Regions from separate parts of the Homo sapiens genome. Here regions 2, 3, 4, 5, 6 and 7 are each linked to region 1. Evidence: fine-mapped expression QTL. A gene starts in region 1. Each other region holds a variant in brackets. All regions are shown on one strand. Distances are from middle to middle.

Region 1 (4,064 bases):
TGCAATTACTCGAGTATATAAACCTCACTGAAAGGCAGGCTTTTCTTGGGAGCTAATAAATAAGCCCCAAAGCCACAACGTGTGTGAGACCTTGAAAAATGGCATCATCATCTATTGGGAATTGTGAACCCTGCAAAAAGCAGCTCGTTGTATTTTCAGAAATAGGTTTTTGTTTAAAAAAAAAATAAAGAACAAAAATCACTAAGTGGAGTCTATATGGAAAAAGCAATCTAGTCTGAGATTCTAAGGCAAGTCTCTTTGCTGCATTCATCTTTCTTCGCAGATTTTATGTAAGAGGCATTATTTGCAGGAAAACAAGACAGGATTTTAAAGAACTCCCCTCTCATCCCGGTTTCCCATCTGCAGTTATAATCCTCTGATGGTGACCTCTGCATTAGTTGCCATGGGTGCTGAGCAGAAGTTTATGACCTCAGGGTGGACTGTAGCTTCAGGGGGGCGAGATGAAGCCTCCGGCAATAAAGAGATAATGGGGAGAAGCCACTGTCAGGAATGACCCTTCGGTGGCATGTAGTCTACAGTTAACGGAGCACTTTCATTTCCACTTCTGGTTGCTTCGAGGAAGAGGGTGCTGGACTCTGGCCACGGGGACACAGGCCGGCAAGAGACTGCAGATTCTTTTTGTCCCTTGGACCTCAGTTTCCTGAGAGGCTGGGCTTGGTGCTCCAAGCGCCCTCTGAGCGAATCTGCCAGAATTTCATGTGTCTTTTCTTTAACTGATGGCATCTTCAGCCCAGAGTCAGTGGAGTCGGCCACTGGTGCCGCTTTCTTGCCCTCGGGCTGTCCAGGTGGTTCCCTGGGGCAGCCGACTCCAGGCCACTGCGGCAGGCCGTGGCGATCGGGGTCCTGCAGAGCTTTACCTCCCCCGCGGAAGCAAAACACGCCGGGCCAAAGAGCCGGGCCAGCCTTCCCGGGATGCAAAAATACAACAGAGGGCGCCGAACTCACCAGCGCTGTGGCCTTGAATATTAATGTACGGGCTGGCTCCAGACCGCCAAGTTCCTTAAAGATGTCTCTGGCGGCCGGGCGCGGTGGCTTACGCCTGTAATCCCAGCACTTTGGGTTGGGGGGGCGGACGGATCATCTGAGGTCGGGAGTTCGAGACCAGCCTGACCAACATGGAGAAACCCCGTCTGTACTAAAAATATAAAATTAGCCTATTTTGCGTGGTGGCGCATGCCTGTAATCCCGGCTACTCGGGAGGCTGAGGCAGGAGACTCTCTTGAACCCGGGAGGCTGAGGCAGGAGACTCTCTTGAACCCGGGAGGCGGAAGTTGCAGTGAGCCGAGATCGCGCCATTGCATTCCAGCCTGGGCAACAAGAGCGAAACTCTGTCTTTAAAAAAAAGAAGTATCTGGCAAGGTGTCACTGCCAGATTTCAGGGGTTTCGATGTGCTTTTATTTGGAATCACCGCAACACACAAGCAGTGTTGACTCGGAGGGGGAGGGGGCAGGGGCCAAACCCACCGCTCGGCGCACACGCCTTGATCTCACATTCCAGACTGGAGCTGATGTGTGTCAGCGCGACATGGGGCGGGGGGAGGGTTCTCCTCGGATGTTTCATTCGCCGTCTGCACGTCACTCCCAAACTTTTCCTCCCAGCGCTCGGGGAGTCAGGTTGACGCGCCCTGGATGCGGGGCTAGAGGCTCGGGGCTGGGCGCGCTCCCGCGGAGCCGGAGCCGCAGAGGCTCCCGGGCTGGACTCAGGCTTCTCAGGTACAAGTTAGGTGCCAGACGCCGAGGTGGGGTCGGCGAGGAGCGGCGGTAGGAGGTCTGGCCCTGGGCTCGGGGCTCCGGCGCCCCTCCGCGGGTTCGGGCCAGGCAGCGCCGGCGGCGGCCGGGGCTGGGCGTAGGGAGTCCGGGCCGGCGGAGGCGGCGCGCAGCCTCACTCCCCGCGGCGCTCCCGGCGCGGTGGTGGCGGTGGCGGTGGCGGCGGCGGCCCAGGCAGACAATGAACTTGCGAGCTCGACGAGCCGAGGCAGGTTTGGGCCCCGGGCTCCTTGGCCCGGCCTCCCCGAGGCTTCAGCGATCCCCAGCGGGAGGAGTCCCTTCGCCATTGGTCCTGGCCGCGCTCCGGGCGCCCTGCGCGCTTGAGGACCCCGCGGGAAGGGTTACCCAGCGGCGACACACGCCCCCTCCCTCGCAGAGAGGACGCGGCCGGAGCGAGGGGACAGGGGACCGAGCAGTGGCGTGGTGGCGCCGTGGATAGCCGGAGGCCGGCGGGGGGCGCAAGCCGCGTGGAACGCACCGGCGGGCTGTCCGGGAGAAGGAGCCCAGTAGTCGGAATCGGGGCGCCCCTGCACCGCCCAGCTCTGGGAGCCGCAGGCGGGGGACCGACCGACGGACAGACCAGTGCTTTCACGGTGTGAGCGCGCGTCGTTTGGCGGTAGGGGACGGGGATTCCCCCCAGCCTTGCGCTCCGCCCCCACACCCCTATCGCACTTTGGGGAAGTTTCCAGGCGCGGCCCGGGGCAGGTAAGTGGGCATCCGCCACTCTCTCCCCGGTTGCGAGCTCGGATGCGCTTCCAGAACCCTGGCTCTAGCCTTGCGGCGGTTCCGGGCGGGGAGGCCAGAGCTCTCCCGCGCCTAAGCCCGTGGGACCCGGTTCAGGGAAGGGGGATGGCGGGGGCGGGCCTGGGAAGAGATAGGGGAGCGGCTGAGCCCCGAGCGGTGTGAACTTTTGCTCCCCGCCCCCTCCTCCTTCCTCCTCCCCGCCCCGCCCCCACTGCTGTCCCCTCCCTGCGCCCCGCCGCGTCTCGGGAGGCGGCGTGACTCGGGAGTTGCCGGCGCTTCCCGGCGGTGGCGGCGTCTCTGGCCGGCCTTGGTGCGGCGAGCCGAGCGAGGCAGCTCTGAGCCGCGCGGTGAGGCCAGAGGCGGGGAGCCGGGGCTGCGGGGCGGCGAAGCTGGGGAGCCGGATGGCAGCGGCCGGGGCGCGGAGGCGACGCTGGCGGTGGAGATGTAATGCGAGTCTGTTGGGTTGTGTGTGCCGGGAGATAGGACGCGGTGGCTGTGGGTGGCTGGGTGGCGGGCTGTGGCGCAATTGGCCCCCTGGGATGGCAGGATAGAGGCGCCGGGGCGAAGGGAACCTTGCCTTTGGGAAAATGAATGAAGAGCCGTGGAAGCACCTTCCCGACTCCTCCAGGCAACCGATGGGCCGGCGTGCGCGCGAGTGTGTGCGTGTTGAGGCTTCGGAGCCGCCCGGGTCCTGGGCACAGCTGCTTGACCTCCCCGTCGCTGTCCGGGTGCCCACGTTCCCGCCCGCCCTGCGCCCGGGGCCGGCCGGCGCGGCTGGGACGGCGGGTATAGAGGAGGAAGGCTGGGGCTGGGTTGCCGGCTGCTGGCGGCTGGAGGTCCGCGCCCAGTGTAGGGAAGTCTTCGAAGGAGGCTGCCAGGCTGGAGGCTGGGACCAGCTCCTGGGGGCGGGGGCCCTTCTTCGTCTGCCTGCGTGCGCGGAGCCGCTGTGACAGCTGGGCGCCTTCGCCTTGTTCACGTTGGTTAAGTTAATTGTACCGAGTTCTCGGGAATGAAGTGTGGCTCCGGGATGCCCCGCAGAGGGATGTGACAAGCCGGTCAGTGAGGCTGAGCAAAGGGGCTAACCTTGCCTCTGGGCGCCCTAGCAGTGCCCCCAGCCCCTCTTTATCAGCTGCAATTCCTGAGTGTTGTGGGATGCCTCGGTGGGTTAGGGTAGCCACCCAGCGTTGGGGCAGAAAGGCCTCGGAGGGCATCTGCACCCCCGAGGGGCCCTGAAGTAAACTGAGGCCTAGAGATTTGCCCAGCGTTTCTCCTGGACCCTCCTTGGACCTTCCTGGACCATTATCCATCCCCCGCTTTCCTGCTTCTCCTCCCAGGACCGGCAACCTTGCAAAATCAGGAACCCTCCCTTCCAGAACATGGCACTTACTAATTTTACAAACTGAATGTTGAACTAGGATCTCTTGATTGATACATAAAGACATACATAGATCATATATGATTTTATTCAAAGTAGTATAGGAATAAAAATGCCTTCTAAGTAGGTAGGTTTTTGCAAACAAGTTTTTCTCCCC
Region 2 (4,064 bases), 49 kb after region 1:
CAACTAGGATTGAGTTCACGACCAGACAGCTCCCAGACTTAGAAGACCTTAAGAAGCAGGAGTTGCATGTGAGTAGCTTTGTGCTAATCTTGACTGATTGGTTGATTTTTAGAAATGAGTGCTTTTCTTTCTATCACCATCTTTGGGAACACAGAAGGAAAATGACTAAAAAATGTCTTAGATGTAGCAAGGATCATTTGACAGCCTTATGGATTTGAATGCACTGAGAGAGTGCTGTTTGCTTACGCTATGGAGTGCCAGGAAGGGAATCTGCTGTCCTGAACGCTGGGCTAGGCATGTTCAAGGGCCGCTGGCTCTCATTATTGCATTCCAGGACTTCTTGCTTGATATGTGGTCGTGGTAGTTAACAGTTGCTTTTGCAGATCACCATCATTTGGGATTTTAAAGTTGCGTTAAATTTGATTTTCTGCTTCTATTCTACATTTTAATCTCTAACGGCAATTTAAATATACAACTAGTAAAAAGATTCTGCTTAATTACCGTGTGTGCGTGTGTGTTGTGTAAGTGTCAGAAAGGTAAATTATGGTAGAATGGATTTTAATTAAACTTTTATCTTTATTCTCTCCAAGTTTTTTTTTTTTTTTTTTTTTTTTTTTTTTTTGTGGGGCGGCGGGGGAGAGGAAAGCACAGTCATTGACCGTCTACCAAGTTTTGCTTTATTTGTTAATCATTGTCAAATATTAGTTCAAATTTGAACACGGTCGTCAGTCTCAGGGCAGGTTCCCATTGCGGTTAGATTGTGTCTTTGCTCATTTTCCCCTCCTCTGTGTCTCTCCTCCTCTGTTTCCTTGCAGATGTTTTCAGTCATCCCCAACAAATTCCTTCCAAACAGTAAGAGCCCCTGTTGGTACGAGGAGTTCTCGGGGCAGAACACCACCGACCCCTACCTCACCAACTCCTACGTGCTCTACTCCAAGCGCTTCCGCTCCACCTTCGACGCCCTGCGCAAGGCCTTCTGGGGCCACCTGGCGCACGCGCACGGGAAGCACTTCCGCCTGCGCTGCCTGCCGCACTTCTACATCATAGGGCAGCCCAAGTGCGGGACCACAGACCTCTATGACCGCCTGCGGCTGCACCCTGAGGTCAAGTTCTCCGCCATCAAGGAGCCACACTGGTGGACCCGGAAGCGCTTTGGTGAGTGCTGGGTCCCAGGGCTCCTGTCTGGTCTCGTTCCTTCATTCGTTCATTCCTCCCGCAACGTTAGCGCTGGGGTTGGGGGGCGAGGGCGGCAGAAAGAGATGGCACAATTCCCTTGTTAGGAGGCTGTTCCCAGGCAAAGACCCAGCAGGGTCTGGAACTCGGTTCCCAGCCATGCAGTGAGCATTGATTGCCAGCTGTGTGCAGGACACGGGGACGAGTCAGAACTGGCAGCTCTTCTTGTTCCGAAAGCCCGGGCACATGACCCGAGCAGTCAGCAGTAAGTGCCAGTGGCCAGTAAGGGCCAGCAAGAAGGGCGTGATCCGGGCTCTTGGCTCCCAGCTCTGTGCTATTCCCTGCTCTGTGCCGCTCCCAGCTCTGTGCCGCTCCCAAGCTCTGTGCCGCTCCCAAGCTCTGTGCCGTTTCCTGCTCTGTGCCGGTCCTCTGCTCTGTGCCGTTCCTCTGCTCTGTGCCGTTCCCTGCTCTGTGCCGCTCCCTGCTCTGTGTTGTTCCCCTGCTCTGTGCTGTTCCTTGGCTCTGTGCTGCTCCCTGCTCTGTGCTGCTCCCTGCTCTGTGCTGTTCCTCTGCTCTGTGCTGCTCCCTGCTCTGTGCTGCTCCCTGCTCTGTGCTGTTCCCCTGCTCTGTGCTGTTCCCCTGCTCTGTGCTGTTCCCCTGCTCTGTGCTGTTCCTCTGCTCTGTGCTGTTCTCAGCTATGTGCTGTTCCAGCTGCAGTCACTGCACCTGGGGGAGACTGAGTTGCTTCAGGCCTCAGCTTCTCTGACCTGCCCC[A/G]TCTGCCTTATGGGTTCCATATGATAACCACATGGAGATCATTCTGGAGGCCTTGCTCTCAGCCCTTTGCCGCAGGCTTACCATGACCACTGCCCATCCCTCTCTGCTCCAGCTTAACCCCATGCACCCTGCGGTCCTCAGATCACTGTTTCCTCTCTGTAACCTTTTCCTTGTGCCAGGAGAGGTTTGGTCACTGGAGCTGAGGGGTGATACGTGCCTATTGTCAACCAGAGTCCTGGCAGGCCACGAGGGTGTTTTCCAGTAATGGACTCAGGTTGACTAGAAGGGAATCTTCAAAGTTTTCCCTAGACCAACTCTTAATGTGTTTCCTGACAAACGTTTGCTTTCATCCTTTTGATGTTCGTCCTACAGTGAGCTAAAGTGTAAATGTTTCTTTTGTGGTTTAGCAGCCGCCACTGTAGGAGCCAGGGTTTCACATCCCTATGCATTTGCTGGACGTGTCTGAACACACTCCCTTGCTGTAGGGTGCTCCCCCGAGGCTCACAGTGATTTCCCCTTAATGAAAACCAGCTTTCTACCGGCAGGAAAGGAGGAAGAACAGAGGCGGGCCTCTGGAATCTAGTCTTCAATGTCACCTTGAACCTCTTGTTACTTTGGCCACGGATGTTCTCTTTCCAATTTCCATTGACTTCAGGAGTTGTGGTGTTGGGAAGTGGATTTTTAAATGTTTGCAAGTGAAATTTATTTATTTTTCAGGCAGGGGGTGAATTTAAGCTGTATGTGGCCGATGCCAGAATCCATGTCTGTCTAGAGTATGATCAGTTCCCCTTACTGTTTGGACAAAGGGCAGGGTATTTGATTGAACAGGGGGAGGAGAGAGAACATCAGGCAGGTGCTGGCTGGGCCCCATGAGGAAGGCATCATGGAGTTTATAGGATACTGCCCTTCTCTCTCCTGTGGGCAGCCCTCGGTCCTCTCTCCCTGTTTGACACAACACATGCATCCTGGGTGTCATCGCTGCCCAGCCACTTACGAGTCCCACCTGTGCACAAGTTAACCAGCCCCAGACTTTGTCCCTCCAAGCAGACATGTTTCTAGCTCTTGAGTAGGTGTTCCAGCCTTTAATCTGCCACTGTCTAGCTTAGTGGTGGTATCTTCCAGCCCTTGAAGCATGCATGGATTGAAGTGGGTAGCCAGGCCGCATAGACCCCCACCCCCATCCCCAGCAGCCCTTTCTGAAGCTTACCTGGGCTGAGCCTCTTGCTGCTGTCGCCAGGCCCTTTAGGCCTTTCCATCTCTCTTTGGTTGCTGTCTGGGAGGCCATCGCTCCAGCAGTAGCAACTTTGTCCTCAGTATCTCCTGCTTCTTGGTTCTCATAGGAATCGTCCGCCTAAGAGATGGGCTGCGAGACCGCTATCCCGTGGAAGATTATCTGGACCTCTTTGACCTGGCCGCACACCAGATCCATCAAGGACTGCAGGCCAGCTCTGCAAAGGAGCAGAGCAAGATGAATACAATCATTATCGGTAAGGCGTCTGTGTCACTCTGGCAGGGCTAGCACCCTCCCTGGGGTCCTGGCTCTGGCTCCAGGCCTAGCCCAGCTCTGCTTCACCTCCAGAACATTTACATGGTGGCAGCAAACTTCTTTTGAGCCTCCACTTCTCCACCTGGCTGTCACTCTTACCACTACATAAAATGTTCACATCACTTGAACATTACTATAAAGTGGAAATGTTGACTTTCTAATTCTTTGGAGACTTAAGGACAGCTGATGGCTTTCTTGAGAAGTTGCCATTTCTTTGTTTTTAAGAAATTAAGCAGGGATATTGACTTCTTTTCCTGATGTACTGATCTGATAAGTTTGGATGGGGGAATTATAAGTGCAGTTAACTGGTTAGTCATCGATTTGCTGCTTGGGGCTTTTGTAATCCCTGGCCACTGGGACCATATAAGACGGAGGCAGCTTCTCCTGAAATAGACTCAGCTCTGACACATCGCCTATAACTAATTGCTGTTTAAAAAGCCTAGCCCCTGTCAACCTCATGCCTTTGGGCATTCAAAGTGAGGTTGATTAATAATAATTTGTTTTAAATATTCACAAGAATATTTTATAAGTAAACATACATATTTACTCTTTAAAATTTATTTTTTATTGT
Region 3 (4,064 bases), 90 kb after region 1:
TCCAGGCAAGGCCCTGTGACTGGGGTAGTGGAGTAGGTGGGACAGGGTGACACGAGGGGTCAGGCCACAGACCCACCTCCTCCTCAATTCACATCACAGTGTTTTTCCCGTGGAAGGTCACCTGGTTTCCAAGAGTCAGCCTTGTCCCCCACAATGGAGACAGGACAATTTCTCCAGCTCTTGGTAGAAGTAATTTTTGAGTGCTTACTAGTTATTTACCTTTTTACTTTTTAAAAAATTCTTGTGAAGTTACTTTGTGAGTTTTCCAGGATGTGTGTAAACTACACACATCAGCCACCTAGGTAGTTTTGAGTTGCTTTGAAGTTCAGCTGTTGTTGACTTCAAAGGCAGCAGCTTATGAAAGTTGGAGAAATAGAACATTTTCCAGTCCCTATTCAGGGGTTGGTGACCTCCGTGGCCCCCAGCCTCGTGGCTTTGGGCTTTGGAAGGCTGGTGTCTGGTCTCACTGATGGCTACAGGCTGGACTCACCCCCACCATCTCTGTCCTCACCAACCCTGTCCCCAGCCCCCTGGCTCATCCCCAGTATCCTCTACAAACCTGCTCCTACTCGGGTCCAGGGCAGGAGGCTGAGCACTGTGGGCCATCCTGGGAGCCTCAGGCTGCACAGGTTGCTGACCTTGGACTGTAAGGGCTGAGTACGAAGGCAGAAGGTGGGGATTCTCAGGCAATGCAGCAGGCCTGCGAGAGACTCTGGGGAGGAGCAACAGGGCTCTCTAAATTGCCACCTGCAAGTGGCTGCGTCCTCCTACCATGGGGCACCCAGGACCCAGCTCAGGCTTGCACCTGGGTTCTTCCTTGTTGAACCTGTGGCAAAGCAAGGAGGAGACTTGGTCTACTCCCTCCTGGGCAGCCTCTGCTGACTGCCCTATAGGTGCTGGGCACTGTGTCTGGGACACAGAGACTGTGAAAGGCCTCCTCTCCCACAGTGGAGAGCTGCCAGCAGCATGAGGAGGCCGGGTTCATGCAGGGTCCTTGGCAGGCCTGAGGGCCAGTGGGGATCCTGGGGGCTTTCTGGGGTGTACCCTCAGCTCTGCATGCTTTGAAAGGCCCCTTTAAAGTCAGGTCCTGGTCAGATCTAGAAGCGGGCAAGTCTCAGCTGAGGCTGAAACCTCGGCCTCCCTGAGCCTTGTGACTTGCCCAGGGTCGGAGGCCCAACGCCCCCTGAGGAATTCTCTTCCTGGTACGGCAGAGAAAGGTGGGGGCCAGGGAATCAGGGTGGGGAAATCCCAGCTGCCTCTCCCTGCACCCTGGCCCATCTCCCCCAGGTCATGAGCCATCCCCCTTCGACTGTTTTCCCACCATAAGGGACTATGATTTACATCTACCAAACTCTGCCACCGACAAGGACAGTGTGGGAAGAGGGTGAGCCCTGAGTGGAGCCAGGTGAGCTGGATTCAAAGCCCAGTTCCGCAGCAGAGAGCCTGGGAGAGCCATCTCTTAACCTTGGGTACACCACAGGCCCTTTCTGCACCCACAGGTCTGTCTTGCTCATGAGTGGGTCTCAGAGTTTACAAATATAGACTGAGGATCAGAGAGGCTGCATGCGTGCCTGAGGTCACACAGCTCAGATCCCCAGAAAGAGAGCAGAATGCAGCTCAGACATTCCGAGTCAGTGCTTTTAACCATAGTGCTGCATTATATACCCTCAGCACCAGCCCCAGGCTTCCATCCTCAGTAGCCTGTCTACATTTCAAGGGTTAGTTCTCCTTCCCCTCCATTTCAAATGCCCCCCTTTCAAGTTCCCTCAGGGAAGGCCAGTGGTTTTTGGGGTCACCTGGGCCAGGGTTTTCTGCAGCTCAACCCATCAGGGGTCTAGGTGATGACTGGGATTTCTAGGGGGAAACAAGGGAAATAAACATGGCTTTTTCTGCCAAAAGGCTCTCTCAGC[C/A]GAGACTTGCTGGCACGGATATTGCCCCTGCCCTGGGCTGGCTGGCGTGAGTTGTCTGCGCCTCCCTGAAGGCAGACTTCAGGGGCTAGCTGTGATGGGCTAGCTGCGGTGAGGAGTCCCCTGAGCCCTGAGTCACATCAGAAGCACATTGCTCCACCCCAGGGCTCGGCCTTGCCCAGGGCCTCAAAGGCACCAAACGTATACACCTGAGCTAGAAAGTGTAAAAAAGCCAAAATTTAATTTTCTCAGCAAATATTTTCTGAACATCTACTATGCACGAGTCATTGGGCCAGGCATTGTGGTGAGGGTGGGACATTGTTCATTTGCTCATTCATTGATTCCTTCACTGGTTCTTCCAACAAATATTGAGGGATCGCCAGCCATGTCCTTGGTATTAGAGGCACCTGGGAGAGCAGAGCTGGTCCCTGCCTGCATGCAGTGCAGCAGACAGATTTTGATCAGAAACAGACAAGACATTGATCACAGCATTGCCTGAAGCATTTCAGAACTGCAACAGGCATGAGGGGCGATACTGGGGACAGTGACATATTTCTGGTGAGATACCCTCATTCCTCCCCAGCTACTCCACTCTATGACCTCCCCATCTGCCTCAGAGACCAAGCCCCAAGAGGAGGCTGGGCTGGAACTGAACCCCCAGCTTTCCCCAGGCCACACGAAGACCACTCCCAGAATGTTTCAGGCCTACCAGCGCCTCTACCTACGAGGTCACCCCCAAGGCTGCCATGCCCTGATCCTCAGGAAGCCACTGTACCTTGCATTGGGTCCTATGTGTCCCATGGCCCCTCATCCATTCTCAAAATGCCTCCTCCACTTTCATGCTCTGGCTCAAGATGACTGAAGTGTTTCCATAAAGGGCCAGATGGTAAATAATATTAGACTTTGTGGGCCCAAGAGGAAAAACAGGGATATTAGGTACTAATGTAACACAGAGAAAAGAGGTTCCACAAATATTTAGAGATGGAATTCAAAATACAATAGTTGAGTACAATTTTTTGGTAATACAGCTCTGCTTACGAGAAGCAAGGGGTTCTTTTGGGAGTGGGTAACATGCTGCTTCATTGAGGGTCAAGTTGAGTGCACCCTGTCAGACCCTCTGCAGATGCTCGTCTGGAGATGCCATTCCTAATCCAATCTCCTGGCCCTGTTGACTTTGTTGGCAGCTCCTCCTGAAACTCTCACTTGGTCTCCAGAACAACGGACTCCTCGCTGGTCCTCATCCTGCCTCCATGGCTGCACCTGCTCTTCTTTCTGGCCATGAATGTCGGGGTGCCCAGCGGCTCAGTCCTTAGCCCTCTCCCATAACTGTTCTTATCCAGTCCGTGGCCTCAGACGCCATCTCTATGCCGATGACTCCTAGACCTCAGCCCTGAGCGCAGGCTGGTGCACCCACTGCGTGACAGGTGGCGCCCCCAGCATTAATGACTCAGAGCTCTTGGGTCTGTCTCTCCACCTAAGCCGCCTCCCCAGCAGGGTTCCATCTTCAGTCGCAGTGACCAGCCCATGCAGGCCATGTCACTGAGCTCTACCCGGGCGCTGCTCGCCCACACCCACCCTGGAACCCATCTTGCCGGCCGTCCTGCTCCTGCCATCTCTTCTGCGGGAAGGCTCTGCCCCCAGCTTCCTCCTTCAGGCTGACAGCCACTTCCCAGTCAACCTGACCACCCTGACCAAACAGCCACCCCGCCCCTTCCCAAGCCACTCTCTCACCGTCCTGTCTTATTATTTTGTGTAAGTGATCAGGGAAGGGACCATAGTGAGGCAAAGGCACCGGCCCGGCCAGGGTCAGGGAAGGGACCATAGTGAGGCAAAGGTGCTGGTCTGGCCAGGGCCAGTGAAGGGACCATAGTGAGGCAAAGGTGCTGGTCTGGCCAGGGCCAGGGAAGGGACCATAGTAAGGTGATCTCACTTGGTCATAGTAAGGAGACCAATGGTGGATCCTGCCTCATAGGATCCACCATTCTCCCGGCTCTGCCCCCTCATCTTGACCACTCTTGTATTAGTTTGGTTGACTATTTTCTGTATTTTATGATCCTTTGACATCTTGCTGGCCTGGGAAGGACTGCCCTCTCGGGACTAGCTAACCCCTAGATATAGAGGCACTTGGAGCACACCTTTTGTGTGCAAAACGGCCAA
Region 4 (4,064 bases), 25 kb after region 1:
ACTTGTCCAAAGTCCTACAGCTAAAGGGAGGCACAGTGACACCTTAGATTCAGGGGAACTCCCATCTTGGGGTGACTTCTTTGCCCTCAGTATATTCCACATGTCATGGAACCTAATGGATAAATCTGGTTTGGTCAGGCCTGGAGCGCAGAACTGTTAAAGGCAGGCAATGAGAGAAAAATCTGCGTCCTTCCTCGAGGGATGAGCTGGCTGACTGGGAAGGTCCAGGCTCAGGCTGGCCTCTGCCCAGGTGTCCTATGGCAGGGGCTCATGGAGGAGCACTGTTCCTGTTTTCTGGGTCCCCTGCTCTGCCTCACCTGTTTAAAGTCAGTGACTCAAATTTTTAAAACTGTGAAACCGTAAACTGTCCATCCCTGTTCAGCCTTCCCCAGGCCACGGGCCCTGCACGTGTCACTGCTTGTTCATGGTTCTCCCCTGTGTTGCCTTTGAGGCTCACTCATCTTGATGACTCAGAGACTTGCCAGAGACCCTGGACTCCCCGTCCCAAATTCCCCGAGCCTGGCCCCGATGATTCTTGCAATGTTACTCTGTTCATGGTGCCTCTGCCCCATTTCCATCTGTGCCATATCACCAATAGTTGGGGGGGGGGTCCCCCAAACAACAGGGACTAACTTGAACTTTGCAAGACTCTTGAATTTCCTGGCTATATTTATTATCTGTATGGCACTGATTTGTACTAGAGCTGAGCCTGCAGAAGTCAGTTGAACCCATCCTCTCTATATTCAGGAGGACTACAGGATGTAGGAACTCAAACGGGATGTTGATCTGTGGGAGTTTGCAACTTTGCCTAGCAGCACAGACCTGCCTCCTTGGGAGAGGCCTCTGGGGAGGGATGCTAAGCCGATGGATGTCTGTGCAGAGACAAGGGACTGTCCTTTTCACCTGAGAGGCCATTCTCATCCTGCCTAGTCCTGTCTGATTCACATCTGACCCCAGCTTAGCCCAGACAGAGACATGCTAAAGCATGTTCTGATACTTTCTAGCTTCGATTATCTCCTTGTATGCTTTCTTTGTATACTTAGGGCCCAAAATACCATAAGGTGGAACATTCTAAAGTAAAAATGATCCCCTTTTTATTGTTTGAAAATTTGTGTTTCTTATTAAAATAGAACATTTTACAGTTATTCACAAGATAAGGTCTTACTTTAAAAATCACTATTTTCCTCTGTCTTTCTGACTTCTTTTTTTAATTCAAGAACAGGGATATTAAGGCAGGTGATGAAAGCAGAATTTTTAATAAGAGCATAGTGATGCTTTTCACAACGGACTTAGAAGACATTAAAATATATGTGTTTTGATCTTTTTCTGGATTTGAATATGAAGGACTAGTTATTGCAACAGACAGCAAAGTAATTCATTTCGGATGCATTTCAGCAAGCCAGCCCTCTAGGAGACGCTGGAATAAAATGTGGAAGTGTGTGACACAGACCAGACTGGACATGTACCCGGCCCATCAGCTAAAAAGCCAAAGAGCAGGTGGAAACAGGAATAACAGTGACAGTGATGGTTACCATGATGAGGAGCACTGCCAACGATTCCTGAACTTCCCAGGTGCCCTGTCCTTGCTTGGTGCTTCCCATGGATTATCTCAGTCTTCCCTGTGGCTCCATTAGACTACATATTGTCACATCATCCCCATTTTTCAGATAAGGAACTGAGGTGGGCTAAGTGTCAGGCCGTGGAGCCAGGATGAGAACTCCAGCTGTCTAGATAACCCATGTCCTGGTAACTGCCACTCTGCTCCCGAGTGGTCAGCATGTAAACCACTGCAGCGTGGGGACTGACTTCACCATCCCCTTGGCTCTGCCTCTGACCCCCCGAGCAGGTGAGAGCTCGAGCCAGCTATTCCGGGAATTAGGCATATACTCATTTTTTGCTTCAGTTATTTCACTAATTAAGGCAAAGTTTCTGGTAGTTTGACATTACGTATCTGGATAATTGCCTCAATGTATCATTTTCACTTTGCACCCGCAGACACAACCTTTAATGAAACTTGAAAACCCAACTCTCCTTGGGGGAAATGAT[A/G]CTCACTTCTGTTTCTAGGCCAGGCGCAGTGGCTCCCGCCTGTAATCCCAGCACTCTGGGAGGCCGAGGCCAGCGGATCACGAGATCAGGTGTTCGAGACCAGCCTGGCCAACATGGTGAAACCCCGTCTCTACTAAAAATACAAAAATTAGCGGGGCATGGTGGTGGTCGCCTGTAATCCCAGCTATTTGGGAGGCTGAGGCAGGAGAATCGCTTGAACCCAGGAGGCGGAGGTTGCAGTGAGCTGAGATCATGCCACTACACTCCAGGCTGGGTGACAGAGCAACACTCCGTCTCAAAAAAACCAAAAACACAAAAACCATCTGTTTCTAAATCTGTTTCTGAAAGTAGTTGAGGGCGCAGACTTCCACTTATAAGCTTAATTGCCCAACATGCAGAAGAAGTCTCCAACTTCCCTGTTTATCAGGCTTGAAAGTCAGCCTTGGTTTGGGGCAGATGGCCTGCTCCTGGTCCTTATCTGGGAGATGAGAGGTTCCGACAGTGTGATCTCTCAAGTGCCTCAGTTTGGATCTGAGCTTCTGTTCTAGCGGCTTCCATGCCCAACTGGATTGCATATCTTAGGAAGCAGGACAGAAGTGCACCTGCACTGATTACTGAGCAAATTGGTCTGAATAAGTGCAGTAGATGCCAGAGATTTCCACGAATGATGTGAATGTGATCACTGGCCAGAAAATATCCATGGACGATAAATATCTGGGCTTCATGCTCTGAAAAATGTTCCTAATCTCTTCTTTGTGATCCCCAAAGAGATTTTTAAGGGAGTTTGGAAGTCTGCCACTTGCAGAAGTCCTGGTGTTCCCAGCACTAAGTGCAGGATGTGGAGTCTGGGGTGCGACTGTCTTGTCACTCAGATGGGGCTGCATGCCCGGCACAGTGCTAAGTGCAGCCAGTTACTCTGGAATGTGCAAATGGCCCCTCTGCCCCAGCTGCAGAGCGCCTTGCGGGTGGCTCAGGTCCTAGTGGGGATAGGAAGAATGGGACAAAAGGAGGAGGCTAAGCCCAAGGCATGTGCTGTCACCAAAAGTGCTGGCTTCATCTCAGAAAGCTGTGGCTGGGTTGGGCTTGGTTGCTCAGGGGAACAGGGAGACGCAGCCCAGGAAATGAGCTGTGGCTGGGCTGGAGCCCACCTCCCCAGGAGGGAGGTGCATGGCAGCCCAGGTGGGGTGCCCCCATCCTAAGATGAAAGGTCTCCACCTCTTGCTTAAATTGTAAGGTGAACGCTTTTGGCCATTTCTAAGGAAAAGCACCTTTGGGATTTGTTCATCATCCTTCATTTTTGCTCAAGGTTTTGGGTGTGAAAACCTCAGAAAAACTAAGTCAACCAAAGACTTTCCAGCGATGTCATCGACTGTGTTGTCATCCAAAGGGGAAAATAATCCCAGCTTATGAATATTTAGAAAGAAGATAATTGCAAATTGCTTTGTGACCGTGTAAACTCGTTTTTTTTTTTCTTTCCCCCAGCCAGTTACATAAGAGGAGGTGTGGGTCAGTCCCAGAAATAGATGCAGAAGCAGTGACAGAACACGTCTTGGCGGTGGTGGAGAGAGACAGCCCTGGGTTCGAGTCCCAGACTCGCAGTGTGTTAGCTAAAGAAGTTTGAGAAACATCCGTCTCTTTCTTTCCATTTCAGCCTCCTCCCCCTTCCCCTAGCTGGTCGACGCTCAAAGCTCTCCTAGCCCAACACTCTGTAACTTGAGGAATAATGTTTTAAACCCCCAAATCTAGTCCTCCCATAAAACCCAGTGAATCTCTCAAATTGATTAAATGGAGGCACTCATTTTATTAGATAGGTAACTGGTATTTTGCCTTTTCTGAAGGGTAGAAGAGGGGAAAAAGTGACTGAGGGGACCAAATAAGAAAAAAAAGACAAAAAGACAGAAGAATTCGGGTTTTTAGTTGATTCCGAATACTCGATGCTTTTGAAACGTTTCCAAGTTTCCTTTACGGGAAAGGAATGCAAATGATCCAAAAGGGAGGAGGGATTTTTTTCCCCCTTC
Region 5 (4,064 bases), 84 kb after region 1:
GGCAGGCCGCACGTTCCTCCAAGGACGGGCTGACACCCATGGAGAGCAGCCCACCAAGGGCAATTGGAAGGGAATCCTTGAGGTCAGCCTTAGACGCTGTATCATCATTAAATGCCAGCTGGGCTCCCCCGAGGGTGGGCATCCTGCACCCGCCGCAGAATTTCTTCGCAATTTCCTGATGGTGTTTCCACCTTCCTCCCTCAGTGCTTCCAAAATGGATCCAGCCAAAGAATTTTAATCCCTAAATATGTTCTCTTAAAGGAAACTCCTGTCTGAATACGAAGCATAGCTGGGATTTTTGCAAAGTCCCTTTTACTTCCTGCCATGCCTCCTGCCTTACGGGACTCGTCTTCTTTTATTCTAGGGCCCTTAAGTGAGAAGCAGGAGGCTTTGATGACCAAGAGCCCCGCATCCAATGCACGGCGTCCCGAGGACCGGAACCTGGGGCCCATGTGGCCCATCACACAGAAGATTCTGCGGGATTTCTACAGGCCCTTCAACGCTAGGCTGGCGCAGGTCCTCGCGGATGAGGCGTTTGCGTGGAAGACGACGTGAGAGCTGAATTGTTGCTGCACGTGCTGGGCCCGCCAATGCCGTCATCATCAGGATTTTACAAATCTCTTTGCGGGGAACTGTTTCACTCATGGTATGGAAAACCCCAGGACTCTGCCACTCTAGGCACACATGAATTATAACCATTTTGGAATTTCCTTCGTGATGTTCGAGAGCTCAGCAATGGACCCCTCACAGAGCTCCTCTATCCGAGGCCATTGGAGACCCCAGTTTCTCAAGAATTCAGCTCTGCTCTGAGCGTCCTGGAGCTTGGGGATGCAGCCAGCTGGCCTGCACTGGGTGTGGAGAGAACACCTAGGGAAGGCAGCCTGGCCCTGCCCGCCTCCGCCTTCTGGAGAGCCTCTGGGTTCTGAGTCAGCAAGCCAGAGGTCATGCCACAGGCCTGGCTGGAACTTACACTTCACGTTCCCTTTTTTTCCCCCTAGAGATGGGGTCTCGCCGTGTTGCACAGACTGTCTGTATTCAATGGCTATCTTCACAGGTGTGATCATACCACATTCACTTCTGAAACACTCTTGTTGCGATCGCTAACCTCACTGGGACAGAGAACCGCAGTCTTTCGAGAATGGAGGCTCTTCATTTTTTTTTTCTCCTTTACTCCAAACTCAGCCCTCCAGTTTCTTCAGATGTAAACCCTGTTAACGTCACTGTTTCCAAAAGGAAAAAAATAAGTCAGTTTTTGGCAGCACCTTCATCTTTCTGACCTCCTCCTATTCTGTCCTTGTGGACTTATGTTTAACATAGAAAATGAATGCGTTTAAAACAAAACCACTTTCTGCATTTAACCAGTCCTGGCTCTCTCTCTGCTGCCTCTTCATACGTTTTCTCAAGAACTTCAGTTTATAATTGGAAGAGAAATTTTTGCTGTTAATGCCAGAATGAGCAACCTCAAGGAATTGAACACTTCTTGGAAAATCTAGGTAATTCAAGCCCTCATCAGGTTTACAAGATCATCAGAGAAACAGAGGATTTTAATTTTTAGTTCTGGCCGGCTACAGGCTCCATTTCTCTGCCTTCCCATTGGAAATAGTTTATTTCCACATTCTCCACTGCGTGTGGTCAAAGTTCCTCACCCAGCAAGGGACTATAGATACTCGTGTCCCAATTCCAAAACACAATGCACAAGCTGAACTTGGGCTGAACGTGGCGTGTTGAGATTTGGAATGAGGTTTCTAAGAGCCGTGTTCTTCATGGAATTTTCCAGGCCACTTGGCAGCTTGGTTTACCGATGGATGGGCTAGAGATCTTGTCGTTTCTTGGAAGTCACAGGGAAGATTGAAGAGAACGCTTGAGCATCCTTGGCAACAGCCCAGGTGGGACCTGGATGAAGCTTTGCACTCAAGTATTGTCAAGGGAAGCTTCCTGTGAACCAAAGTTCTCAGGCCAAGGTCTCGCCCACCAAAGCCAGAAAGTGCAAGCACCCGTC[T/C]ACCCAGCTCTAACTTGTATGTGTGAGACAGACCAGGCTTCGGGGGTAGGAGGATCTGCAGTTGTTCAGCCGTCTTTCTGCTGGTGTTGTCTTTCTGCCATCAGAGAAGGGACACACAGCCCGTTCGAAGGTGTGCAGAGGGCTCTGAGCGCCAGGATGGCCAGGGCTGTTTTTGCTACTGAAGGAGCGTGTGTCCTGAACTCCCACTTGCAGGGACAGTCCCCACCTTCTCTATAGCCGGCACTGGGAGCAGCCGCCAGCAGGGAAATCTGGCCTGAGCACAAGGATGCTTTAGGGAGAGATCACTTCAGTGTGTGTGTATATTTATTTGCAGTACAGTGCGCGCGTGTGTGTGTGTGTACGCGCACGTGTGGGTGAGTGCGTCTTCTGAGTGGGTTCTGTTCAGTTGCTAATGAGGCTCCTCCGCTCTGGACACAACCCTTTTATAGATTAATTTCTCTGCCAATTAACTTGTCATTTTCAGTACATATTTTACTATTCCACACCAACCATAATTACAACAAGGGATTTTTCTTATGCACTCCTATGCATGTGAATAACATGTGGTGTAATTCTGCTTCTTACAGAAGTATTACTGAAGGTATTATTTCCAATATTATTTGGTTTATTATGCGGATCTTTTTTATATATGCAGTCCCATCCCTTCTGTGCCACTCAATGCCATCCAGACATGGTTTTTCCCTCCAGGGGCCTTTCTCTCCAGAGGGCACTTCGGCTGCCTCTGCTTCCTCTCATTCGAGGCCCGGCTCTTGCTGACAGAATAGGTTCCGTTCTGGGCGGTGGTTCTCGAGCCTGCCATTCAAAACCAAAGCAAATTGGAGCATTTCTCACAACATGGTATTGAAGTTCCTTTTTGTTCTCAAAAGTTGTGACCGTGTTAAATTGTACTCCCTTAGTCCTGTAAGGTATGTTAAGTGAATCGCAGTTACGCTGTACTTTTATTAATATTTAACATAATTAAAGATGGACCCATAAGAGTGACGCCTGTGGAGCGCGTGCTCTTCCTCTGCAGCCAAGCTCTTCCTGGTGCATGAGTGAATCGCAGTGGTTTAGTGTCGCACCTGCTCGAGTTGTGCAGGCTCTGTGTAAAGAGGAGTTACAGCTGTGCTGGCTGCTGAGAGACGAGGTGTGATTGTGCGAGCAACAGGCAGAAGAAAACTCAAGACCAGAGAGAAAAGGATTCAGATGTTAGCAGGGACTCCCTGTGCGAGTCCTGTTGGGGTGTGAGTCAGGGTGGGAGGTCTGGCCCAGCCACAGTCAGGCCTAGCGTTGTCTTCAGACCTTCAAATTTGAAGGTTAAGTGACCACAGGCCTCATTCCGGTGGCCTGCCTGGCCCCTGGCAGCTGTGAGTTTGAGACCCCTGGTGTCTCTGGCACATGTCCTTATTGCTGAGGGCAAGCCCGCAGAAGGAGGTGTGGTGTGCACTCAGGTGGGGCAGCCAGGACAAAAGACCACAAACAACGGAAACTGATTTTCTCAGTCTGGAGGCCAGAGACCCGAGATCAAGGTGCTGCAGGGCTGGTTTCTCTGGGGGTCTCTGTCCTTGGCTTGCTGATGGCTGATTCTCTCTGTGTGTTCATGTGGCCACACACACACACCCCTGCTGCCTCTTCCTCTCCTTATAAGGACACCAGTCGGAGTGGATGAAGGCGTGCTCTGACAGCCTCATCTTAACCTCATCATCTCTTTAAACAACTTTATCTGCAAATGCAGTGACATTCTGAGGTACTCGAGATTGGGACTTCAACATACGAATTTGGGGCACACTTTTCAGCCCATACAGAGGGGACATCTCAGGCTTAGGGCTCTGAAAGCTGGGCCATCCTGAGCACAGCGTGGACCATGGTGGGTCCCCCAGTTCTGGGCAGACCTTCCTGGGGGAGCCTTCTCCCCAGCACCACCTCCCACAGTGGTGTGTTGAGGTAGGGGGCAGGTGTGTCCAGGCTGGAAATAGGGAAGACCCCATCTTTTCCTGCGAGGGTCAGGAATGGCTTTACCCAGCAGGGAATGGAGGACGGGTGGGAGTCAGGAGCAGGACGGCTG
Region 6 (4,064 bases), 120 kb after region 1:
AGAGTCCCCATCACCCGCCCCGGCCTGGCGGCCGAGGGTCCCTATGATCATTGCTATGGCTTTGGTGCGTCCAGACGTGGGATCGGAGCGAACGACACCCCATCCGCTCCCCGGAGCTACTGCCCCTTCCAGGACTGGGAATCAGAGGGCGCTCATTATAGCACTTAAAAGTAGCGCACAAAGACCTGCCCACCCATTCCAGCAGAGACAGCGAGGAACAGCCCGCAACGTGCCCGCCCGGGAGAGAAGCGGCCTCGGCTCTGGCAGCGGACGCCCACCCGCCCGGGAGCCTCCTCCAGGGGCGCTCCCAGCACGGCGAGCAGCACGGCCAGGCGGGGCGTTCAGAGCGGCGGGAAATCGTTCCGCCCTCTCCGTCCCTCCGTCCCTCCATCCCCGCCCTGCCGCTCACCTTCATCCCCTCTTCGCTCCTCCACCTCTCTCCTCTCCCTGCTCCTCCCTTCTCCCCATCGCTGCCGCATCCCTCCCTCCCACCTCCTCCCCTCCCCTGCATCCTCTCCCCTCCCACCCCGTCCCTCCATCCCCTCCCCTCTCCACCCCTCCATCCCTGCCCCTCCCTTTCACCTCCTCCCCTCCCCTACATCCTCTCCCCTCCCATCCCACCCCTCCATCCCCACCCCTCTCCACCCCTCCATCCCCGCCCCTCCCTTCCATCTCCTCCCCGCCCCTCCCCACCTCTCCGTCCCGTCCCCTCCCCCGCTCGTTCTCCGTCCCGCCCCGCCCCTCCATCCCCTCCCTTCTCCACCCCTCCATCCCCGCCTCTCCCATCTCTTCCCCTCCCTACTCCTCCCCTCCCTTTCCCTCCCCTCCCCTCCTCTCCCCTCCCCTCCTCGTTCTCTGCCCCGCCCCGCCGCCACATTTCTGTGGGTTTCCACAGCTCCCCTTCTGCATCACCGTTGACAACTTGAGTTAAGTGGGATCGACTCAGGAGTCAGGATACAAGTACGTTCGCTCGTATCCCTTTTGAATGGCTCCACTGCTGAAAAAAGAAGTTTCAAAGTCATTTCTCATTCATAAATCAAATGCATAATCAATAATTAATATACTGTATTCAATTTTAAAAAATATGTACTTTTGAGGCGAGCTGGTTTTTCAGGCTTTTCCTGTCTTTTCAAATAAAACTCTCAGACCAGGAATGGGGAAGGGGGAGGAGGGGAAGAAAAGAAGTTAAACCTTGTGAGTGTGAGAATGTATATTGGGTGTGTTCGTGTGTGGGTATTTGTGATTGTGTTTGTATGTGGGTGTGTTGGGGGTGTTTGTGTGTGTGATTGTGTTTGGGTGTTTGTGGGGTGTTTGTATGTGTGGGTGTGTGTGGAGTGTTTTTTGTGTGTGTGTGTTTATGTGTTGTGTGCGTTTATGTGGTTGTGGGGTGTATGTTTTTGATTGTGTGTGGGGGAGTGTTTGTGTGTGTGTGCGTGTGTGGTGTTTGTGATTGCATGTGAGTGTGAAGTGTGTATATGTTTGCGATTGTGTTTGTGTGTCAGTGTGGAAGTGTTTGTGTGTGTTCTTGTAATTGTGTGTTTGTGTGTGGGGGGTGTGCATGTGTATGGGGAATATTTGTGTGTGTGGGCATGTGTTGGTGTTTGTGTGTGTTGGGGGTGGGTGTTTATGTGTGATTGTGTGAAATTGTTTTTGTGTGTGGAGGGTGTGTGTGTGTCTGTGTGTGGGGGGTTGTGTGTGTGTAGGGTGTTTGTGTGTGTGACTGTGTGTGGGGGTCATGTTTGTGAGTGACTGTGTGTGAGGTATTTGTGATTGTGTTTGTGTGTGAGTGTGGGATGTGTATGTTTGCAATTGTGTGTGTGACTGTGGGGGTGTTTGTGTGTGTGTGATTGTGTGTGAAGGTGTTTGTGATTGTGTGTTTGTGTGGCGTTTGTATGTATGTCAGTGTGTGGGGGGGATGTTTGTGTGTATGTGTTTGTGTGTGGGTGTGGGGTGTGTGTATGTGATTGTGTGTGTGAATGTGTGGATGTTTATGTGTGGGGTGTGTGTGTGACTGTGTGTGGGTGTGGGGTGTTTTTGTGTGTGATTGCGTGTGTGTGTTTGTGTGTGGGAGTGTGTATGTTTGTACGTGTTTGTGTATGGGCGTGGTGGTATCTTATAGGCTGAGAACCCAGGGCTGGGTCCACTGGTGCGGGAGAGATGCTCCTCTTCATCAGCGACCATCTGGGTTCCTGGGCCTCCCAGAAAAGCAGCAGGTGGCTGCAGGGGGCGGGGCAACGTAGGGCAGGGGGCAGGGCAAGGTAGGGCAGGGGGCGGGCAAGGTGGGGCAGGGAGCGGAGCAAGGTGGGGGCAGTGCAGACGCTGAGTCTTCTGGGGCTAGGCCTGTCTAGCGCTGGGAATACAG[C/T]CCAAGCAAGGAGCTGGAGTGTCTGTCCTCCACAAGTGTCCTCACACAACTGTCCTCAAGTATCCTTGGGCTCACAGTTTAAGCCGGGTGAGTAGCGATCATTCAGGGCTGCGGAGTGCGGTGGGAAGCAGAGGGCGGAACCGCGCAGTGGAGCTGGCCAGGGGACTGCTAGGATAGAGGCTAGGGCACTGAAATGAGCTGAGATGTCGTGGGTGCAAAGGGAGGTGCAAGTGGCCAGACGGAGAGAGTGGAGAGAGGAAAGGAGAGAGCAGCGGGCCAGCTTCATAGCACTTAGCTCCCGCCTCTAAAGCAACCTCTCTCCAGCACTGTGGACTCAGACCCAGCCCTTTTGCCTCTCTGCTTGGGCGTCTAGTGAACTCCTCCCGCTCCCCTTTATCGCTCCTCTTGGGTGTCCAGTGAATGCCTCCTGCTCTCCGTTTGCCCCTCTGTTTTAGTGTCCAGTGAACGCCTCCCACTCGTGTCTTCACCAGCATTGCACACCTGTCCGTCCCATCTCTCAGGAGCCAAGGAACCCAGAGCCATCCTGGGCTGCTACCCCCACTCACATCCCACCCACCTGGGATCCTCTGAACATCTCTGAACTCCTCACCACTGCCACCCAAATCCACTTCACCCTCCTCCTCCCTGCAGGTGACTCGGGGCTCTCTGCGCCCCCCTCTTAACACCCATCGTATGCCGGCAGCTGGAAGGAGCCTTTTGAATATGAGCTGGGAACTGTTGCTCAGCTCAAACCCTGCCATAACTCCCCATTGGCTCAGATGAAAGCCCACGTCCTTCCCATGACCCCAAGGACCTACCCTTTCCCTCATTTCCTCCTTCCCAGCCCCTTGGATCCCCTGGGTTTCTCAAATACCCAGGCCTGCCCACACCTTGGAGCCTCCCCGCTGGCTGATCCCCCACCTGGAAGGCTCACCTGTCACCTTGTCAACGAGGCCATCTGGTCACCCTCCCCTGGCATTCCAGGTGCCTTCAATCTGCTCTTTTTTAAATATATATATATATAGCAATTTCATCTTCTAGAAAACCATCATTTACTTACCGTTTGTTTATCGCTCCCCCCGCCCCCCTACCCCTAGACAGCTCCATGGAGGCGAGGAGTTTTGACTCTTTGCTGTTTGGCATCTTCCATCACAATTGCCTGGCACATAGTTTATGTCCAATAGATATTTGCTGATGGTTGGCTGAATGTGAAGATGTGGCGCCTGGCTGGCCACGGAAGGAACTGGCGTTTTGTTCTGTTAACCGGGATAGGCAATAAGAGAGTTTAAGCACAGGTGCGATGTCAGCTGAGTCGTGCTCAGGAAGAAGGCCCTGCTTGCCCTGGGGAAGATGGGCTGGGCCTGGGGGAGGAGACACACATGCAGGCAGGGGTCATCGTCCCTTTTGTCCCTGAGAGATCCTGGAGCAGGGCTGTCCTGCAATGGAAGTGTCCTGCATTGGCACTGCACCTGCAGCGGCCACGGGCCTACGTGTGGCCCTTGAGCACTTGGAATCTGGCTAGGTGTGGCTGAGAAGTTCGGCTTTAAAATTCACTTTATTTTAATTAAATTAGTGCAATTTACATAGCGACATGTGGCTAGTGGCTCCGTGTGGACCATGAAGTTCTGGAATCATCCGGATTAAAGACGGTGGTGCATGGACAAGGCTGGCAGCAACAGCAAAGGTGAAAGAGGTCACCTTT
Region 7 (4,064 bases), 44 kb after region 1:
CAGTGATGCATGCCTGTAATCTCAGTACTCGGGAGGCTGAGACAGGAGAATCGCTTGAACCCAGGAGGCGGAGGTTGCAGTGAGCCAAGATCGTGCTGCTACACTCCAGCCTGGGCCACAGAGTGAGATTCCATCTCAAAACAAAAAAAAGAATATGTAGTATGCCTTCCTTCTTGCACTCGAGCAAATCCCACCCCTGACTTTGGCCTTCAAGACTCTACAGAGCCTGGTCCCTGCCTCCTCTCCCATCAGGTTTCCACCCCCACCAGCCTGTGCCCCAGGGCCTACCCTGCCAGTAGCCCTCATGGGCTGGGACTCCCCACAGCGTCTCTCTACGGGGCCTTTGCTTCCCCTGGTCTCCACGTGACTGGCTTCCTTCTTGTTCAGGTTTCTCCTCCAACGTCCCCTCTGAAATCAGGTCTTCCCTGTCACCCTGTGTATCATACCTCCCACTTCTTTAAGGCAGTAGCTCCAACCCAGGGGTGATTATGCACCCCAGGGGGCACTGACAATGCCTGGAGACATTTTTGGTTGTGACATGTCAGGGGAAGGGGTGCTATGGCATCCAGTGGGTGGGGGCCAGGGTGCTGCTAAGCATCCTACTGTGCGCGGGACAGCCCTGACAACAAAGCATGGGCCAGCCCTAGGACGGCACAAAGAATTCCAAAACCCTGTTCCAATGGTTGTATTGCTCTCTCCCCCTTTTCTTTATTCTTTTCTGCATAGCCTTTATCTAGCAGCATCTGTGATTATCTTATTCATTTGGGACTTCTTTATAGCTTGTGCCCTGCAGCCCCTACCCCTGGTGGGACAGAAGCTCCACTTGGGAACAGGCCTCCTCTCTGGGTCAGCCCTGCACCACTCGCGCCCGTCAGGGGAGGTCTTGTCTGGAAGCCGCCGGGCTCTAGGGCCTTCACTTACAAGGGACTCACCTGGTCTTCAGATTGCTTGTCCATCTTACTGAGTATTTGACATACTATACAGTGGCTATCGATTTTGGTAAAAACTTGTAAATGTAAGACAGTTTTATGTTTTTTTCTCAGAGAGGCCCCCACCCCCACGCCCACCGCAGCCCAGGGGTATTTTCCAACACCAGCAAATCCTCCAACTCCAGAACCTAACTGATTATCTTACCATTCAATTCAAGTCTGCCCCTACCAGAGGCAGCCTCAGACTCTACCGGTTTGAGGGCTCGGTCTCACCAGACTGCCCCACTTCAGATGCCAGTCCCAAGTATTGGGTCCCCAGGTTACCCGCACATCTGTCCAAATTGGCTAAAAAGGCAAGAGTGTCCCACAACCTCCTCAGGTTCAGTAATTCACTAGAATGACTCACAGAACTCAGGAGAGTGCTTGACTCATCATCAGTCTATTATAGCATAGAATGCAGAAACAGCCAGCAGATGAGACGCATGGGGCGAGGTATGGTGGAGGAGGGTGTGTGGAGCTTCCATGCCCTCTTCCTCCACTCCACCCTCCCAGCACCTCGAAGGATCCACCAACCTGGAAGCTGCCTGAGCCCTGTGGTTTAAGGGTTTTGATGGCGGTTCCATTACAAAGGCCTGATTGGTTAAATCATCAGCCACTGGTGATTGACTTAATCTGCAGCCCTTATTCCCTACCCGGAGTTTGGGGGGTTTGTTGAAAGCTGCTCACTGAGGCTTGGTCTTTCTGGTGACCAGCCTCCATCCTGGAGCTATCCTGGCCCGCAAAGTGTCACCGCATCAGGATACACTCAGGTATGGCTGAAAGGGGCTTGTCATGAATGACGAAAGGTGCTTCTCTCACCCCATCATTCAGAAAAATTCCAAGGATTTTAGCACCTGTGTACCAGTACCCGAGGATAGAGACCAAATACTCATCTCTTATTTCCACATCACATCCCTCATCTTGTATTGGCTTTTGGTCTCCCCCTACCTGGACATGCGCAACACTCAGCTGTTCTTCAAAAGGTATTTGTTGAACAAATGAATGAATGAATGAAAGAATGCTAGGAGCTGAGAAAACACTGTATCTGAGTGTTTTGCTAAGGCTCTTGCAGCATCTCGAATTGCCTCCTCAGGTCTTTCTGTTTAGGAAGCGGGACTCGCAGAGGCCGGGCTGGTTGGTGGGGGCAGCTGCCCCGCAGACATGCTCTGTGGACCCGGTCCGGGCACCCCATCTTCCCTCCTCTCTGTTGAGACTGTCGGCTGCTCATGTTTTTACTTTGCTTGAAATGAGCTGCCCCTGCCCTTGTTTAGGAATGTTTTGCCCATTCGTTTGGGTCCAGATTATGTACATTCCTATCTTGGAGCTTC[A/T]AAGTCCGTGTTTTGTTTGCTTTTTAAAGAATCTAATTCGATTTTCTGCAGCAGAAAGACAGGAGGGTGCGAATTCCCTCCCCGCTGAGCTGCTGGTTGGAGTCTCATTTTTAACCCCGGCTTGGCCCTGTCTTGGACATGTGAAAAAATGTTTTCTTGGCTTTAATGATGGAGTTTCCAAGTAGGGGATCTTGCCCTTTTGTTTCTTTAGTTTGGAAGAATTGTTTGTAGCAAGCGATGGGTCAGGGGTGGTTGAGCAAGTTTGAAGCAGAGGTTGATCCTTGAGGTTTCTGACATGTCCCTCCAGCTGCCCTCAGGGATAAGAGATGGGGGTAGGGCCTGAGATGTCTGGCCTGGCTTCCCAGAACTGGCCCCTTCTGCATCCCCGCCCCAGCGCCTCTGCAGGACTCAGGTCTCAGCCTCTACTGACCAGCCTTTCTCAAACTGGCTCCTTGATACCCTAGTGAGATTCCTTGGCCAATTAGGTACTTCCAACTTTGTGTATTATATTCCTCTCTTGTGGATTCACAGGGCTTATTAGCATATCAAAGGCCCTGAAAAGTTCAGCTGTAAAGAATTCTGTGTAATTTTGTCCATTCCACATTTTCTCCAAATAATTTAAGCACAGAACACTCACCAACGGCAAGCAGAACATTTTGTGGGAGGAAGACATTTTGGGAAACACAGCTTGGCTGTTTCTTGGCCACCATATTTTGAGAAAACATGAAGTTTTCAGTCCAAGGGGCATGAACATTTCTTCTGTTGAGTTCTGATTGTTTAATCCTTCAGCCAGTACATGGCGATCTTGATGCGCGGTTAGTTAATGCTGCCTCTATGGAGACAGTGAGGGTTGTTTGAGGGGTGGCGTGGGTAGAGTTGGAGATGAGTCTACCACTCTTGGGTAATTTTCAATTGCTAAAGAATAATCATGTGGTATAGGATCTCTCATCTTTGATTCCATTTCAAATGTTTTTGGCATTCACTGACAATGAAAAATCATCATCATAATAGTTGATGATGCTATTATTATCAATGCTGTCTACCTTTTATGGTATGCTAAATATGTGGCAGGCATTATTCAAACTGTTTACATGTAGTAGCTAATTTAGCACCTGTTAAGGTGTCCTTATTATCCTAATTTTACTATTGAGGAAACCAAAGCTCAGAGAGGTTATGTGGCTTGCTCAGGGTCACACAGCCAATTAGTGGTGATCTACCACTGCTAGAAACTGAGTAGGTCTCCTTTTATGCTTATCCATGGCTCTTTCTACGACATCTACAAAGAAGTGTCATTTGGGCAACAATATATTTTATAACCACAGGATTCTATTAATGGGTTTTTAAGAATCATATCTTGCTCGAGATGATGAAAGTGAAAAATTATGTCAGGTTCTGAAGCTCTGTGTCACTCGAGGGAATCCTATACATTGGATTTAATTGCTTAATAACTTAAAGTCAAGTAGTTTTTTAATATGATACATTCTACTGAAGGAGAGACTCATTTCATTGTTTCTAAATTTTCATTAACTTTTGCTTCCTAATCTGATAATAAAGGTTAACTCTAAGAAAGAGACTGCTGATGCCAGTGAGAGGGAAAAAACACATTTTCTCTGCCTGCTCCCTTTCTAACCATCCTCCTTAGTATTCTTGAGATTTTTCATTGACTGAAAAGCACTGATATTTCAATCCATCCCTCAAATTTGTAGTCATTGACTGTGCATGACTCTGAGAATGATCACAACATCCTGGGATTCAGAGATCCTGTACC

Alleles and levels. Alleles are on the strand shown, and positions count from the first base shown. SD is a standard deviation of normalised expression in the study named. Not every link is listed here.
As copies of A replace G in region 4, the expression in unexposed skin of the gene that starts at base 1,605 in region 1 goes down (small effect, 0.22 SD a copy in GTEx).
For the expression in liver of the gene that starts at base 1,605 in region 1, allele A in region 7 goes with a higher level than allele T (moderate effect, 0.75 SD a copy in GTEx).

The links. PIP is the estimated chance that this variant, and not a neighbour inherited with it, causes the effect.
Region 2: its variant is the best candidate, but not a certain one, in a credible set for the expression of CHST15 in whole blood (INTERVAL, PIP 0.64).
Region 3: its variant is the best candidate, but not a certain one, in a credible set for the expression of CHST15 in whole blood (TOPMed, PIP 0.78).
Region 4: its variant is the best candidate, but not a certain one, in a credible set for the expression of CHST15 in unexposed skin (GTEx, PIP 0.86).
Region 5: its variant is the best candidate, but not a certain one, in a credible set for the expression of CHST15 in whole blood (INTERVAL, PIP 0.71).
Region 6: its variant is the best candidate, but not a certain one, in a credible set for the expression of CHST15 in whole blood (TOPMed, PIP 0.65).
Region 7: its variant is the best candidate, but not a certain one, in a credible set for the expression of CHST15 in liver (GTEx, PIP 0.90).

What each region holds. Positions count from the first base shown.
Region 1 is chr10:124,091,139-124,095,202 of GRCh38, reverse strand. It overlaps CHST15 (carbohydrate sulfotransferase 15), which reads left to right and starts at 1,605. Exons shown (of 8, transcript NM_001270764.2): 1 at 1,605-1,734.
Region 2 is chr10:124,041,671-124,045,734 of GRCh38, reverse strand. It overlaps CHST15 (carbohydrate sulfotransferase 15), which reads left to right. Exons shown (of 8, transcript NM_001270764.2): 2 at 1-68; 3 at 816-1,155; 4 at 3,288-3,434. Among named protein-coding and RNA genes, the nearest start is that of CHST15, 50 kb to the left of the region's middle. RefSeq lists an enhancer at 2,261-2,500. The variant A/G (reference allele first, on the strand shown) is at 1,948.
Region 3 is chr10:124,001,122-124,005,185 of GRCh38, reverse strand. No RefSeq gene overlaps it. Among named protein-coding and RNA genes, the nearest start is that of CHST15, 90 kb to the left of the region's middle. RefSeq lists enhancers at 280-845, 846-1,413. The variant C/A (reference allele first, on the strand shown) is at 1,911.
Region 4 is chr10:124,065,914-124,069,977 of GRCh38, reverse strand. All of the region lies in intron 1 of CHST15 (carbohydrate sulfotransferase 15), which reads left to right. Among named protein-coding and RNA genes, the nearest start is that of CHST15, 26 kb to the left of the region's middle. The variant A/G (reference allele first, on the strand shown) is at 2,047.
Region 5 is chr10:124,006,640-124,010,703 of GRCh38, reverse strand. CHST15 (carbohydrate sulfotransferase 15) reads left to right here. Exons shown (of 8, transcript NM_001270764.2): 8 at 365-3,036. The coding sequence ends at 555. Among named protein-coding and RNA genes, the nearest start is that of CHST15, 85 kb to the left of the region's middle. The variant T/C (reference allele first, on the strand shown) is at 2,000.
Region 6 is chr10:123,969,006-123,973,069 of GRCh38, reverse strand. No RefSeq gene overlaps it. Among named protein-coding and RNA genes, the nearest start is that of CPXM2, 79 kb to the right of the region's middle. The variant C/T (reference allele first, on the strand shown) is at 2,363.
Region 7 is chr10:124,047,035-124,051,098 of GRCh38, reverse strand. The region is part of intron 1 of CHST15 (carbohydrate sulfotransferase 15); the gene reads left to right. Among named protein-coding and RNA genes, the nearest start is that of CHST15, 45 kb to the left of the region's middle. RefSeq lists enhancers at 96-596, 1,638-2,138, 2,139-2,639. The variant A/T (reference allele first, on the strand shown) is at 2,297.